Regions from separate parts of the Homo sapiens genome. Here region 2 is linked to region 1. The links come from fine-mapping of genetic effects on gene expression. A gene starts in region 1. The other region holds a variant in brackets. All regions are shown on one strand. Distances are from middle to middle.

What was found. PIP is the estimated chance that this variant, and not a neighbour inherited with it, causes the effect.
Region 2: its variant is fine-mapped to the expression of TRPM3 in visceral fat (GTEx, PIP 0.97).

What each region holds. Positions count from the first base shown.
Region 1 is chr9:71,117,615-71,126,372 of GRCh38, reverse strand. TRPM3 (transient receptor potential cation channel subfamily M member 3) reads left to right here and starts at 4,752. Exons shown (of 26, transcript NM_001366145.2): 1 at 4,752-5,195. The coding sequence starts at 5,019. RefSeq lists an enhancer at 5,107-5,944.
Region 2 is chr9:70,886,451-70,895,208 of GRCh38, reverse strand. The region is part of intron 1 of TRPM3 (transient receptor potential cation channel subfamily M member 3); the gene reads left to right. Among named protein-coding and RNA genes, the nearest start is that of MIR204, 81 kb to the right of the region's middle. The variant G/A (reference allele first, on the strand shown) is at 3,239.

The DNA.
Region 1 (8,758 bases):
GAGACAAATGATTTTTTGAAAAAAATAGTGGTTCTCGGTCTTTGAGGAAGCGCCACATTGTCTTCCACAATGATTGAACTAATTTACATTCCCACCAACAGTGTAAAAGCGTTCCTGTTTCTCCACAGCCTCGCCAGCATCTGTTGTTTCTTGACTTTTTGATAATTGTCATTCTGACTGTTGTGAGATGGTATCTCATTGTGGTTTTGATCTGCATTTTTCTATTTATCACTATTCAGTGATGTTGAGCTTTTTTCCATATGTTTGTTGGCTGCATAAATGTCTTCCTTTGAGAAGTGTCCGTTCATGTCCTTTGCCCCCTTTCTAATGGGGTTGTTTGCTTTTTTCTTATAAATTTGCTTAAGTTCCTTGTAGATTCTGGATATTAGACCTCTGTCAGATGGATAGATTGCAAAAATTTTCTCCCATTCTGTAGGTTGTCTGTTCACTCTGATGATAGTTTCTTTTGCTGTGCAAAAGCTCTTTAGTTTAATTAGATCCCGTTTGTCAATTTTTGCTTTTGTTGCAATTGCTTTTGACATGTTCGTCATGAAATCTTAGCCTGTGCCTATGTCCTAAATGGTATTGTCTAGATTATCTTCTAGGGTTGTTATAGTTTTGGGTTTTACATTTAAGTATTTAATCTACCACAATCCCATTAGTGGTATGTATCCCCCAAAATATAAATCATTCTATTTTAAAGATAATGTACACCTATGTTCATTGCAGCACTACTCACAATAGCAAAGACATGGAATCAACCCAAATGCACATCAATGATGGACTAGATAAAGAAAATGTGCTACATATACACCATGGAATACTATGCAGCCATAAAAAGAATGAGATTATGTCCTTTGCAGTGACATGGATGGAGCTGGAAACCATTATCCTCAGCGAACTGACACAGGAACAGAGAACCAAACACCGTTATGTTCCCATTTATAAGTGGGAGCTAAACAATGAGAACACATGGACACAGGGAGGGTAACAACACATACGGGGGCCTGTTGCAGGAGGAGAGCATTAGGATAAATAGCTAATGCATGTGGGGCTTAATACCTAGGTGATGGGCTGACAGTGCAGAAAACCACCATGGCACACATTTACCTGTGTAACAAACCTGCACATCCTGCACGTGTATACTGGAACTTAAAGTAAAATAAAATATTTAAAAAAGAAAATTCAAAGCACAACAAAATTAATAAAAGAGGCCAATCATTAAGCAAGCAAGACGTTAATATTAAGACTACAAAACACTGAAGCAAACGAAAGTGTCTACAAAGGCTCACCACTGGGCTTGTTCCTGGTTTTTCCCCTGGTTGCTTAAATATCATCCTTCTGCACTAGGTGCACTACATCCATATATTAGAGCCTGAAAATATATGTACAATTGATGTCCAGATACCTATGAATTTTAATGTTGTAATAATAAACTCTGAAAAATTACATTGCAACACTGTTATTTTAGTGTTGTTTGCAGAAAACACATTTCAGAGGGAGGCTTTTGAGTTCTCTGTACTACCTGGTCACTGTGTCATTTCCTTTTTGTTTTCTTAGGTTTTCATGGGTCAGCTCCTTTTACATCCAAAAGATATAAAGAAGACAGGGTGCAAAGTGGTACAATACTATATTGAGGGTGCTATGACTTTTGAAGAGAAGGAACGTGGTCTTCAAAAGAAAGAATTCAGAAGGGCTATACAATGGCCGCCTTGTCAGTATTGAGAATGAGCTCAAATTTCATCATGATTCTTTGGTTTCGTATCATTTACACAGAAAATAAAAAGGGAAGATAATCAGTGGAAAGTGGGCTTTTCTGTAGCACGGGAGAGAATTAGAGTTGGCTCAAAGGCAGGCTTTGGAATACAGAAATCTGATATGCCCTGCTTGCTATTTTTTAGGATACTGAAAGCTAGTATGATTATTTCAGAGTTTTAAGCCTGCTAGAATTTGTTCTGCAGATATGTAGACATCTACATTCATAAGATTTATAAGTAAGCACTTTGAATTTGTGAGATGCTAATATCTGGGGCTGGGCTTGCTCCTCTCTGCTTTTTTTTTTTTTTCTCATTAGACCTCTCTCTAAAACTGGGGAAGGCATCTTCTATGTGAAAATATAATTTCTTGAAAGTAGAGAGAAGGGTCTTGAAAACCCTTCTTTAGATGTTTTGATAGCAAACAATTCTGGCACAAAGCGTCCCCAGTGATGGAAGAAAAACTGCCTCTCATGCACTGTCATCCTTCTTTGATCTTTTACCTCTTTTGCAGTGTAATCTCCAAATCAATTCCCTGAAGGTTTTGTGCTTTTCTCCTCTAATTGCCATTAGAGAGGGCTGTGAATCCTCCTACTTCCTCACTCTGCATAGTTTCTAACAGTTCTCTTTGACCAAAGTTATTCAGTAAAATTAAAGGGGATAGGATCAAAGGCCATGTGTTTTCAGAATGATGCTGTCATTTTTGTGGGGTCCTTAGCATTTTGAAATACTGCAGGGCAGGGGGTAGGCAATTGCAGTTTTTCAGCATTTTCATGGAGCAGAGATCTCACCACCTCAACAGAACCACTTAAGGGCGTTCATTTAAAAGCTTAGAAAGGCTGGAGCCTTCCCCACTAAAGGCAGCATCTCGCAACTGGATGAATACCACACTGCATGAGGAAAACCACGCTGCCCTTGCAGTCTCCCACCTTCCTCTTTACCCCATTTATTAAACTCATAGTAACTCACAAGAAGCATTCAGTTTTAATTTGTCTTGCTTGACTTCATTACCTACTACCATATGTATGCATGCTTAATGAAAATTGTCAGTGGGCTTCCAGCTCAGAATCAGCACATGCTACCCAGAAGATGGATCATGGTACAGGTATTTAGTATATGCCAGGCACTGTTCTAAGTGCTTTGCCAATATTAGCTTATTTAGTCCTCACAACAACCATAGGCATAAGGGTTTATTTTAATCTCCATTGTACGGATAAGGACTCCAAGACACAAAGAAGGTACGTAAATCTCCCAAGACTAGCTTCAAAATTGGAATTTGAACCATGCAGCTTGATTCCAGAATTCATGCTGTTAACTAATACATCAACATCAGACCAAAGTAATAATCTGAAAGAAATGCTGAGCGTTTCTTCTTTAAAGTCTTTAACTCTTATGTAAGATTAAATTACCAAAAAACAGAGGCAGTGGTTTTATTCCTGAAGTCCCTTTTGAAAGAAATAGGAGACAAGAGAAAGCTTGTCTTTACAGCCTAGTAGACTGGTTTCAATCCAGATTCCAGTTATACTAGTATGTTAGACTTGTTACTAATTTCTCTGGACCTCACTTGCTTAATCTGTGAGATAAGAAAATGACCATAACACCTACTCCATAAGGTTGACATGGGCATAAACCTATGCAATGCATTGTGCTAGGTGATACATGTGAGCCGTTATTATTTTAATACTGCCTTCAATCCTTTGTGGAAATAGAATAGTAACAGAAAATGAATCAGCTGTGTATGAGATCTATTAAAGTGATATTGTTTGGTAGATAATCAGAGACATAAATTTTACTATACGAGGTAGGTCAATGGTCTGCCTTCCACCCGTGGACTAGTTTTCTGCAATATCTTTCTTAAATTTTTGACACAAGACCATTGTGAGTGAAATGGTGTTGTAGCGCAGTGTGTCAGGTATTGATTTCATGCTGGGGTGGGCCTGTGTTGTCCCGGTTCTGAATTACAGCAGTGTATCACATCTGCTTGCACCACTCCCAGTTCAGCTCTGACTGCATAATAGTCATGGAGCTGGGATTTACCAATCTCTTCAAGTTAATTAGAAATGGAAAATCAGCATGGTCACAGAGGAAAAAATAAATAAGATGGCGATGCTCCAAGGATGTGGGGATTCTCCCCATAGGAGTTGTCAGGTCAACTGCTCCCACTGAGGTCCGATGCCTGGGGGTACATGGGAGCCGAAGGGGGGTTGTGTCAGGAACTCCCTTCTCATCTCACCGTCCCAACTTACTATGTGAAATTATCCAATTTCTACCTTCAAATTGAAAAACTGTCCTTTAATTCTCTCTCTCACCACAGGAGTCCTAAAGACTATACATTCCAACTCAGCAACTATTTCATACAGCCTCCTTAGAAAATGATGGGGGTGGACACCCCACTTGAGGAAAATCCATTCTTTATAGACAGCATCCCATGTGGCACTTTATGGGTTAAACTTGTGTTGCAGAGAAGCGGTATCAAGTGGCTTTCCAGGAGATAACCCCCATTTAAAAACTGCCATCTCTAAAAGGTGAGCCAAATGCCCATGAGTTTAAACTGCTTTGTATGAAAGGAACAACCCAGTGTGTTTGAGTTTGCTTCTGTCTCAGTGTCTGTCATCTATGCAACCGATTATCAGGATGAAGACTGTCAATCACGGTTAATAAAAACCTCAGAACACGACACAGATCTCTTTTACTATAGATGTATTTGATGATAGCCTCACTTTATTATGTCACATAAATCAAAAGGGAAGCATTTATCTCATCATTCGGAGGCACCCCTTCTCTCCCTGTGTCCTCACCCCTCCCCCCGTACCAGTTCTCAGTCCCTCAAAGATGCTTTGTGCAAGAAAGTGCAAGTTTCCCGTTCTGGCTTCATTTTTGTTCCCTTTTGCGATCCTCCTGGCTCCCCCCCAAACCAAGCTAGCAAAGCAATGGCCCCGGTTCCCCCCCAACGCCTGACCTGCGTTTACTGGGAGGAGAGCGGGAGAGGGAGCGCGCATTCTGGAGCAGGCTGCTTTGACTCCGACCACAGGCTGTTTTGTGCAGGCTGTCCCTCTTCTTCAAAATCGTGCATCCCCTCCCCGAAGCAGCAGGCAGTGTGCCTCCATTCAGCCACATTTGGTATGCATGAGCACGGCTGCAGAGAGAGGGGAGGTGGCTGTTTTAAGAAGGTTCAGGGGCTCAGGCAAGGCTACTTGACTAGTCTTCCAAGTTCCAGGAAGCCTCTGCCCTAATGGAATTTGCAGGTGTGGAGATGACCATGGGATGCCAGAGCCGTGGGGGACCGTTTATTTTCTAGGCATTGCTCAGGTTTTCAGTTTCTTGTTTTCCTGGTGGAATTTGGAAGGGGTCATGAATCAGGCTGATGCTCCTCGACCCCTAAACTGGACCATCCGGAAGCTGTGCCACGCAGCCTTTCTTCCATCTGTCAGACTTCTGAAGGTACTGTAACTTGCAGCTTTGAATGGCGCTAATTGTGCTTTTTAGATTTAAATACCCAACTTGGGGACTTGGGCTGGGACGCACCTTTGGGGGAGCCTAAATGCATGCAGTACTGGCTCTGTGGTCCGTGGCTGGAGAGAGGTTCTCAGTACTCCTGCCCTCCCCCCACGCCCCCCACCCACACCCCGTGGTGTCAGAGACAAGAGGCTGGTGCGAACCACACTCGAGAAGGAGATTTTGGTCTCAGAGAATGGGCTACCTGGTGCTCCCCCACCCCTTTTAACCATTCCTAAAACAGAATTAATTAACTTCTTTGGGAGGGTGGGAATAGTAGTGGGAGTGAAATCTCTTACTCCCTTGTGTTTGGCTCCTGGGCTTTTCTTTCTCTCTCCCTGGGGAAGCCCTTCGACCCACTTTCCCTTTAAATGGAACCAGAGAGAACAAAGGATTCTCCTCATTAGTTTAAAAGCTTTGTGTAGTTAGGTGGCCAGTCAGGTGAAGATGAACAAAGAATGAGCCTCCTCAGACAGTGACTTTTTTTGTGTCCTTGTTTTTAGAAAAGGCATAAAAATGTGAGTCTCCTGAGTGGAATCAGTAGTGGGAAAGTATTGTTAAACATATATTGAATGTCAGCTCTCTCTCTAGCTGTGAGTCACACAAAAGAATGGCACTACACCTGAGCAGGAATTGCCACCGTGTGTCTGCAGCGCTTCTCTTTCCAGAAGCAAATGCATTAAAGATACTGAAAAAGTCCATACAACTCTGTACTAATCCACCTTCATGATCTTTCTTGTAGGGGGGAAAACACAAATTAGATTTAAAGGTGCAGGAAACAAGCATTTTTGCCCAGTAAATAGAAGGTGGTAATACTTAATAGGGAAAAATAAATATCTCTGATGTTCTATATCCATTCGAAGTTAAAAAAGGCAAAGTTCTTAATTCTCTTTTCCTGAGTATGTATGCTCTTTTGATTTAGTGACCACAGAGCATTGAGTCCAGTGGGCTACAATGGAGAATTAATGAATTAGCCCTGAATACGTTACACTTGGAGAATTTTGTTCTGAGGATGTGTTCTGGTTAGGTAAGATTTGATGGGGACAGTTAGTTCCATACAGCTAAGTGGTGCCTCACAACAGAGTATTACCCCTTGCCTGAGTTTTCCTTTTCTTGTTAAACACCAACTGGTATTAACTTTCAACAAAGGCTGCCCCAAGTGCTGTTCAAACTCCCATCATATGGTTGTCATGGCGATGGCTTGCTTCCCTAGGGACTATTTAGGAGGAAAGGCAGGTTTGGGTATGGGTAGTAGAAGAGACTTTTCCTTGGATATGTGTGTTTTTGCTGTGTTGTAACAACATGTGTGATAGGGCAAGAAAAAGAATGAGGCCAGAGAATTAACAAATTGGTGTACATTTTCTCCAGAATCACTAGTGAATCAAGAGTCAGGGGCAAAGAATGGGCATATCTAAGTCTCCCTGAAAGAATTCAACTCCAGTAATTCGAAGTGCAATGAGAAACATTTTTTCAGTTAAAGTCATGTATCAGCTTTAACCCAAAATAATGCTTTTTAACTCTTCTTGACAGATAGGTGACTATCACTCTCCATATATGATTAATTAATATGCTAGTTTTTTTTTAAATGGAGAATGTTATTCATTTACTAGTCACAAAACCAGCAGAGAAGTACCTACCTGAGGTACTTCTTTTAGAAGAAGCTCTGTCTTTTTAGGAGAGTGAGTTCTGTCATCTTTTTTAACTGAAAGTGCTGTCCATACTTTCAGGAGACATTGTTAATGCTACAGCCATACTTTCATTGGCATACAGCTCAATCTTACCATCCTTTATTAAAGTGATGCTTTGTAATAATTTATTGAATAAAGTGCATTACTGTGTGTCCTTCCCATTTTTTCAATATCTAAAAGACAGGATGGAACCTTACTGGAGAACTTTTTTCCCAAATGACATCTGTATTTTTGAAAGATCATAGCTATCTTCTGAGACTTCAGATATTGAGCACATTTCAAACTCTTAAAAAAATAAAGTCATACCAAGTTCTTTCAGCAATACTTAGAAAGAAAGCAAAGCTGCTTTGGTATATGAGCAATTGTATTGTCCACTCTCTGGCTGTGAATGCTATGTATTTTTTTCCTATGGATTGTTGTATGTTTCTCCTATGGATTCCTGTGTTTGCTTTGCTAGTTCCTATGTATTCTTGCCATTTTATCTTTTGAGTAAAATGTAAGTTCATGAATAATAATTTGCATGTTTTGGTAAATGCTCTTCCTGGCTTAATCTAGAAATGAAATATTTAATAACAGTATTTCTTATGTCCTTTCCTTTCTTTCTCCTCCCTCCCTTCCTCCCCCTTCTCTCTCTTGTTCCACCTCCCTCCATACTACCACCACTATGTTAATTTGATGAATGGATTCTCTAGGAATCCAGTAGATTATTGAAATCTTAAGGTAACAAAGCCAATTCTCCTATTCAACAGGTAGTGCTTATTCCTCTTCCAAGCATTGTTCTAATATGACCTGCCCTCTCTCAGTGCCCCTACCTGTCAGTAAATGCAGTGTAGGTCCTGATGGCTTGATTAGATTTAGCTAAACTCTGATCAGTCACCATTTCTGACAGACTGGACTCAAGCCAATTTCCCTTTCTATCCTTTTCCTTGAAAATGTGTGTATCTTTGCTAACTTCCTTTGGTATCACGTTAATATTTAGAAATGGCTTCATAATCCTATTTCCTTATTTTCCATTTCCTAATAGAAACAGGATACAAAAGAATTAGAAGGGGAAGGCCGATATCTGAAGTATGAATTAAACCCAATGAGTGTTGGAATGTACTTATTATTCCTCCTGAAAGCATCTCATTTGTTGTTTTGTCCATCTCAGAGCAATTTTTGAACATGCCAACACACTCACATTTTGAATTTGGGGTTGCATTTGGAAATAAAACTTGGAAATGAATTTCTGGACAGGCACACAATGATGATAGCCAAAAGACAGAGCCTGTTTTCAAATGGGTAAATTTCAAATGGGACCCTTTCTACATCATTTCTCTTCTGTTGTCGTTTGCTTTATTCTTATGTGTTTCAAGATTGCATCTTACTATTAATCACAAAAAAAGTCAAGTTTATTTCAGTGACAGAATGTTCTTAGCATATTTCATATTCATTATCAGGTCTATCTTTGCCATTGTTTTATTTGGAAGATTTTATTTTGGTAACATGTTGAATTCGAAGATTATTTTTAGGGCAGAGAGCTTTCTGTGTATTGAAGTCTTGGCGAACTTACTGAAGGGAAGGCTTCTGAAAAATGGGTTGCATTGGGAGAAGGGGACACTGTATTTGTGACAGATTTTGGAAAGATATTTAAGTCAGTGTGTTAATGAAGACCAAATGATTAGTATCATTTTTAAGACTTTCAAATTTTTATATTGAGAAATCATATGAGTTTGCTCACTTTAAGCAATGTCAGAAATAGAATAAAGAAATTATATTCTGGAAAAGTCAGCCTGGACACTGGGTCCTAATTCCACTGTGTTCCTAACCAGCTGTGTGACC
Region 2 (8,758 bases), 230 kb after region 1:
TAAAGAAAAGAAAATGCAGCGCTGCCTGTTTTCAGAACCTGGATCCATATCTATCTGGACTGGCATACAGAATCGTCATAATAGCACTAACATTTATGTAGCACTTTGCATTTTGCAAAGTGCCTTCATGTACAATATAACATTTGATGACGATAGATACTATTAGCATCTTTGGGCTGATGAAGAAATACAAGCTCTTAAAAGATAAGGTATCTTCCCAAGCCATGGCACTAGCACTCAATACAGTCAGCATTCAAGCCAAAGTTGTCTGACGGCAAAACTTTTTTCCCATTTTCTATTCACAATCTTAGCAGTAGGGCTTCAGCACCGCAATAGGTCCTGTTAGAATCAGCGTGACACTAAAATGTAAGCTTCTTGAAGACACAGATCCTCAAGAAGGTATATTGTATAACTAAGTGATGTTGTTATGATACTACTAAACTTTACGTAGCAAACTGTTGAGTGCTATATATATTTTGGTAATATTATGGCAATTCTGTATGACAGCCCAAATAGATGTAGATCTGAGTCCTGGAGAAGCCAAATCTTGCATTCACTTTTGCTTAGAAAATTCTCAACTGCAACTAATCTTGTATTTTATCCTAAAGTTCAATGCTCTCCTAGTCAATACTGTACTCCCAAGTTCCTAAAGCAGTGCCTGGTACATGGTAGGTGCTCAAGAAACATGTGTTTAATAGAAATATCCCTGGCCTTTGTACCAACAGCATGGATCTTGATATTTAAAGAAATGCATTTGTATCCATGAGATACAAATGCTGAATGTAGCAAACCAGTGTGGTACAGTCCCAGAAAACCCAAGTAATGCCCGATGGTCCCTTGGGCCCAGGCAACCACTGACCTCATAGGCTAGAGCAGACCTCTGCCAGGTCCTAATCCTGACTATGCTCCTAGCTGGTAGTGTCCTGGGCAACCCCACTGAAGATATTCCTTTTTGTTTGTTCATATAATGTTATTCTATATGTTCATTTCATAGACACATATTCACTGCATTTGTATCTAACACCAAACAAACAAACAAAATCCTTGCATCTTTGTAGCTCAACAAGGAGCACGTGATGGTATTAAAATTTGGTGGGATGGCTTATGGGCACCTTTTCATTCTATTATATATGCTTTCCTCCAACAATGTTCCAAACATTTTTCCAAGTTCCTGGACATCCGTGACCCATTTTGTCCTCCAATATATTGCTATTTCCCATATGTGGAGTAAATCCTTAAGCATATTATAACTTTTGGCATTTTCCAGTAGAAGAAATTTGTGCTTACCTCATCATTTTTTTCAGCTTCTTTTAAAATAACTGAGAGGCTTAGAATGTTTTGCATAAGACTTCTTTTGTGTCTTAGGCCTTCTATGGGAGAAAAGAGAAAGAATCCTTTGATGTAAATCTTTTCTGATGTAATCCTTTTCTAATATTAATCTTATTCACTCTGTGTCAATGTTTAATTACCATTAGTCCTTTAATCTCGCCACGTGTTGGATTTCAGGAGGAGGGCGCTTTGCTTCCACAGTAATGTGGTTCCATAATTACAGTTTTCCCTTTTCAGTAGATAGGAGTATAGGGCCCTAATTTTTCCAGATCTAGGAGGTACACTTTCAATCCCAAAGTCATCAAAATTACTACTAGAAATATATGTAGTATTCCATAAACCATTCGTAGTCACCATGGGACAATTGGATATTTATGTTATACTGATATTTCTATTAGTAGTAGCATCATCATAACATATTTATATAGTGTTTTATCATTTATAAAGAGCTTCTTACACTCTAGCCATTCATATTCTTTATTCACTTGAACCTAATGAGAGCCCTATAAAGCATCTTAGGGCTTCCTTTCTATGCACAAGAAAACTAAGGCTAAGAGCATTTAAGTGAATTACCCAAGTTTTCTTATGACAAAGGCAGTTCTCTAACCCAAGCCCCTGGCATGGTCCATGTGATTTCACCCAGCAAACCTCCCTAGCATGGTTATGCAGCCCTTCCAATCTGGAGGACCTGTGGGGAATAGTTTCATTAGAAAAAGCATTATTGGTGTCGCAGAAAATGTCTTCCCCTACATATAATATTAATAATAGCAGTCCAGCACAGGAGACTCTGCTTTGGGGAAATATATCATCAACATTGCCTCTTTTTCAGAATATATTGTAGATAGATAGTGCTTTGTGCTTGCTTAAAATGCTATCTCATGTTGCAGCATATTAACAACCTTGTAAAGTAGAGTAGATGGTATTTTCTCAATTTTATTTGTGGATATAGCCGGTCATGTAGAAATTAAGTGACCTTCCTAGATATGTGAAGGTAACAATCAAAACAAGAAACCTGTAATATTATTTTGTTGTTCAACTGATTTTCTATTTCACCACATACTATGGTTGTAATAATAATTACTGATTTTAACCACTTACATTTTAACCACATACATTAAAGTATTGATTGAGAATTAGAATAGCCTCTTTAATTGAAAACTCTTGAGCTACATGCAGAAATATATTTATTTAGAACTGGTCTTAACCATCCATGAATGTGATAGATTCTCATAAATGCTTGCAGATTGGCTAGTTTTTTTTTTTTTTTTTGAGGTCAAACGGGTAAATTTGAAACTTGAACCTAAAGAAGTAGCAATGTATTGACTTGAGACTTTTTTCTCTCCAAAAGTATAAAATATTAAAATAATTAAAATTAAATTATGTTAAACCACATTATTCTTTCAAGATAATAAATGTTGCACAGCTGTGAAAATAATTTTGATATTGTTTGTAATCTCAAAATTCAGGATCTGACTTCATTTATTTAAAGGCAAAGAAGTGCTGATCTAGAGTAATCACCCTATTTCTAGGTATTTCTACGAATTTACAGATGCCTTTTTTTATGTTCAGACTCTCATAAAGGCCTCTTTTTCTGAATGATATTACATATTAACTCATTTCACTTTTGGTACTGTATAATTCACTTGTGGCTAAAAGAAGTAAATTATCTTACTCCATGAATAATTAATTTCTCTATATAGTCTTCCAAAACGTTAAGGCACAAAATGTTAAAATAACATGGGCGATTCATTCTGAGAATTAAAAGTCCTCTCAGTATCTCTTTCCTTTTTCCCTTTTTTTCCTCGTAAATCCCTCCTGCTCCAACCACGGAATTCTAGTTATTATCCAGGTATTCACCCTGCTGTGGATCTGTAGGCTGGGAGAAGCTTGGTAGTCCGTAAGTTTTGAA[G/A]TAAACTTTCTTATATAATAAAATGAAACTCTGGGATATGGTAAGCGCCTAAGGCACAAGGTGAGAAAGGCTTAAGTTTGGGTCTGACTTTGCCAGCCCTGAGGTCTTCAGCAAATCTTCAGAACAATGAGCCTCAGTTTTCTTATCTGGGATGTGGGGACAAAAATGACAATTTACAGAGTTGTCATTAGGATTAAATCAGATAATGCATAAGAAACCTCCTAACAGTGGCTCATGGTACATAATACATGTTCATTTTATACAACAACCCAAGAGGAGCTGGAGAGATAACTAAGGATACAATTTCATTCATTTGAAACCTTTATCTTCCAGTACTTCCATTTAAGTTTTTGTTTTTCCAAATTTTGCTATTGCTGTTCATTTTTATTACATAGTTTTATGATAGAGCTTAAAAAGTCAAATAGTGCTACGAGGACTTTCACACAAAAAACAGGGTCCCTTGCCTGACACTTCTCACCCCACATATCTGCTTTCACATCTGCTTTCAGCTCTAAAAGCATCTTTTTCTGGCATTTAACTCTATGTTTATAAGCAGCATGCTTATAATTCTGCTTTTTTCATTTTGCATGTTTGATATTTTTACTTTGAAAAATGGGATTTAGCTATTTTATTCCCTTTTCCCAGCATATACTTCATCTTTTCCCTCACTCTCCATACAGTTAACAATTATTTTTTTCAATTTTTCAGTATTCAGTGTTTTTATTTTCTATGACTATGCAAATTTTCTTCACTGTATATAAAATTATTCAATCTCCTTTTCTGAACAATTCTAATTTTTTATTATACTTTAAGTTCTAGGGTACATGTGCACAACGTGCAGGTTTGTTACATATGTATACATGTACCATGTTGGTGTGCTGCACCCATTAACTCGTCATTGACATTAGGTATATCTCCTGATGTTATCCCTCCCCCCTCTCCCCACCCCACGACAGGCCCCGGAGTGTGATGTTCCCCTTCCTGTGTCCCATTGCTGAACAATTCTTTAGGTTAGTTGTGTTTGTGTTTGTTGTTGTTTTCATGCATACACTCCAGCCTTGAGTGGCTGTTCCCAGCTCTGCTGCAGAGCTGTCTTATCATCTGGCACTTTGCTTTTCTATCCTTTTATGAATTCCCTCTGCCTCTGTCCTGTGCTTGGTTCCCTGTTTTTAGATACCATGTTTTTTCCTGTTTACGGAGCATATTTTCCAATAGCATCCCATGAAATGTTGCAGCATGTGGAGTTAAATTTTGAACTATTTTAGGAACTAACATTTATTTATTTTATTCTCACCCTTGATTAAAAATCTTTTCCTCATAATTTCAAGATATCCCCATTGCATTCTAGATTTCCTTGAATCTTGATCTTATTTACGAAATATGTTTTCTTCTGTCTGGAAGCCTGTAGAATCTTATCTTTGTCTTGGTCTTTAAAAATTCTACAGCGTTATTCTTTGGTGGAGGTCTATCTTCATCTACTCCACTGGCCACTCACAGTGACCCCTTCAATTTGGAAATTTATGTTCTGCAATTCTGGAAGTTTTTCTTATATCAATTTTTTTGATAATTTTCTCTTTTGGTGTTCTCTGTTCTCTTTTGCTGGAAACCTTTATTACTGAGTCTCTAACTTATATATTTTTTGCTCCTGTTTTCTCTTTGTTCTGTTTTGTAAGAGATAGCCTCACGTTTGCTTCCTCACCTTTATCTTCTATTTAGGTTTTTGTTTTTCTTGTTATATCTCTTAACTTTCTAACACTCTCTTCTTGTTTTAAAAATGTCCTGTGTTATAGTCTCTCTTCTTCCATGCTTGGGTCTTCTTTAGTTCTCTGAGGCTACTGATTATATTATTGTATATATTTTGTACTATTGACTATATATATACTATATAGTATATAGTACACTATATTTGTATATTATATATACTAATGTATAGTGTGTATATATTTATATATGCTATATAGAATATATAAATATAAATATATAATATGCTATAAATATTTATATTTTATAGTATGTTATATATAGTATATAGCATATATACTACATATATACTAATTTTATGTTGTTTACTATATATACTGTATATACTAAGTATATGCCATATATACACTTTTTACTATACTTTTCTGTACTGTTTCCTTTATTGTTTCATTTTAATGGTTCCTGTCTTTCATGGTAGAGGCTTTCCTTAATTCCTGATGACCCTTGGCTATTACTTAAGCCTTTTCTATTACTTAAACCTAAGTATAAGCTTGCTCTTATACCTCAGAGTAAGGCATTAAAATGCAGATTGGGAATTCTTTGTCCTTAGGTGGGATTTATTGACCAGTGGTCTTTTCTATGGATACCCAGTATTTTCTTAGGAGATTCCTGAAAGTCAAGATCATGAGGTCTGTTTGGTGCTCTTCAATATTTCCAAAGAAAAGTCCACCACTATCCTGCTGGAAGGTGTGTGTTGGGTGGGGTACAGATGGTCAGGGGGTTGGAGGAGGACATAGAGCCAAACTGACCATGGTCTAGTGGCCGACAGAGGTAAGAAAACAGGTGGGGTTGGCGGGGACCTCGCCCATCAATGTGTAAACTTTCACTCATATTTTTGCTTTCATCCTGGTGCCTCATACTTTCAGCCGTACATCTAGTCTAAGGTTCAACTTCTCAAAAGAATCAACTTCTGGTCTTCCCCTTGGTGGGAGAGCAGCAGTTTCCTGGCTATGTGGAGAGGAGGCAGAAGTTTGGCTGGTTCTTTTAAAGACTTTCAACCATTTGTCCCATATGGGCTTGACCTTGCTATTCCACCCATCTCCTAGCCTTTAAAAATACCTGGTGCCTTTATTCCTAGGCCTATCTGAGTTTCAGTGGGGTGAATCAGGTTGTTTCTTGCTGGCTGTGCCACCCCTTCCAGTTCCCGAGCTTTGAACATTCTCTAGTTGGCAATGTTAATTACTACCCATCCATTCATGTTGAAATTTCCAAAAATTTTGTTGACATCTGTTATGTATTCCCACTTCCTTCTCCATACTGGTGTCCTTGTAGGTCATGCCTTTTTGTTGTTACAACTTTCCTCTCATTTTAGAAGAATACTTGAGAGAAATCGAGATAAATGCATATGTCTAATCTTCCAGGTTTGATCAGAAATGTTGTTGAATCAGCCTCCTTCCCATTCTAAAAACATGACCACCCCTTAACTTAGGCAAAAGTCGGCTTGAAGGGAACCACATGTCATCTCCTTCCTCTTCTCATCCTAGGCCCAGGAGTCAAGTAGGCACCTCTGCTGAGCCAAAGTAGACAGGCAGATCTAGTGAACTATCACTGGCTCAGGAAGAGGATATGATACAACCATTCTTTCAATCTGAAATTTTTACAAATGGTATGCAACATGCATTAACAATGGATGTAAGACAATAGGCAAAAGTTTAAAACAAAACCTGTACCTGGCAAACTAAATTCAAGAGTAAAACCCTTCTAATAAAAAATAGTAAACTTTTCTGAGAAAAGGCTTGGAGAATACATATCTGGTAATTTCTAACTTTATCTTAATTATCCAGAAAATTTTACTTCTAGGATTGGAACACACACACACACACACACACACACACACACACACACACCCCAAAATAAAAGCAAGAGCAAAAAATACTCCTAACTCCCATTAATCCAACAAGAAATTAAAATGTGACTATATTGCCATAAAAATTCACTTTTTTCAGGTACCTACTATGTGCTGGGTGGTTATAATGGTTCATAGTAAAGACTGAAGCTAAAACCTCCTTTAGTCATATAAAGCCTCATCATTATAGTGACTTGGGGATAGCCAAATCTAGTTAATACGCCTTCTTGGTTCTATGGAGCATGCTACAATCTGTGCCAGAGGCAATTAAAGAATGGTTCAAATGGCAATCTGTAGAGCTTTGAAGATATCCGTGGGAAATAGGCTGCTTGACTGTTCATTACCATTGTAATAGATTAGAAGTGACATTGGTTTAAAATAAAAACAACAACTCATCATTCTGGTCCAGTTGACCAATTAGGGCATTCACACTTGTCATACTGCAGTTGCACAGTTGTTGACATTATTTTTCATCATATGATGGTTATGGGAAAGATACATAGTACTTTATAGACTGTATCTCTGCTTCTGCCCAAATTAAAGTCTTTGTGCTTATGAGAGTGTGTATTTATGTACATAGAGGTAAAGGGGCAAACCATTCTCTGGTGGTAAAGAAATGAGATGGTAATTGACAAACAGATGTTGAAACCCACAAGATACCCAGATACTAAGAAAATAGATTTGTATGGGCTGCCTCATTCCTTCAACTGTAACATAAATAAGAAGAATCATAACTACTGGAATAAGAAACATATGGTTGCCTGCCAGAAGCCTCTTCTTATCATACCAGATATTCAGGAAAACTCTCCTGAAGTACTACATAAAAAGGCATCATGCTGGCATAAATATCATAGCATAAAATTTTACTTATTAAATTTGTATCACATGTTCTTTCCAATAAGCTCTTAAAATGGAGAAATTATTTTTAGATTTCTATTCTGTATATTATTTCTAAGTTTGATTAACACTTTAGATGAGTAATGACATAGTGAGGAATCATTTTGTCAGTGAACAATTAGCACTGAAGATATATCCAGAACTTCAGTAAATATTATTTAATTTTCTTTCTGTGACTTCAACATTGGAGTTAGGAAGGAGACTACATGTTGACAGGACACAATTTGAGCTTAATAAAACCTGAAACAACCTAAACTAGATGGCTGGAACTCACATCCTTAGCCCTCTTTCTTTCTAAGCAGTAGCCCAATCCACTAGCCACAGGTAACCTGTGTGCAGAGATCCAAGTGATGTAGGAGTTAGGTTGTTTATATTGGTAAACTCTAGGCAGATGCTATTACAGATTTTAATGTAGAAGAATGTCCTTCCTTTTGACTCATCATATGTTTTGATTTTATTTCCTGTCAATTGCAGTTATATTTGTCAGTTATAAGTGTTGACTCTCCGGGCACGGTGGTTCACACCTGTAATCCTAGCGCTTTGGGTGGCCAAGGCAGGTGGATCACCTGAGGTCAGGAGTTCGAAACTGGCTTGGCCAACATGGTGAAACCCCGTTTCTACTAAATATACAAAAATTAGCCAGGTATGGTGGTGCAGGCCTATAATCCCAGCTACACAGGAGGCTGAGGCAGGGGAATCACTTGAACCTGGGAGGTGGAGGTTGCAGTGAGCTGAGATTGTGCCATTACACTCCAGCCTGGGCGACAAGAGCGAAATTCCATCTCAAAAAAAAAGAAAAAAAGAAAAAAAAGTGTTGACTCATTATAAACAAAAAGAGACACTCACAGAGGATCGCCATCCCCAGTAATATTTCTTCCTCAGCAGTCCTTACTTCACCTTCAAACCCTTGACCCTATCTCTTTTTTCTGAGTTCAGGGCAGCAAAGGTGGTAGAAGTAAGCACTGTAGACCCGGGGTTAAGATTAGAAGGTTCAGGTGCATTTGTTGTACAATATA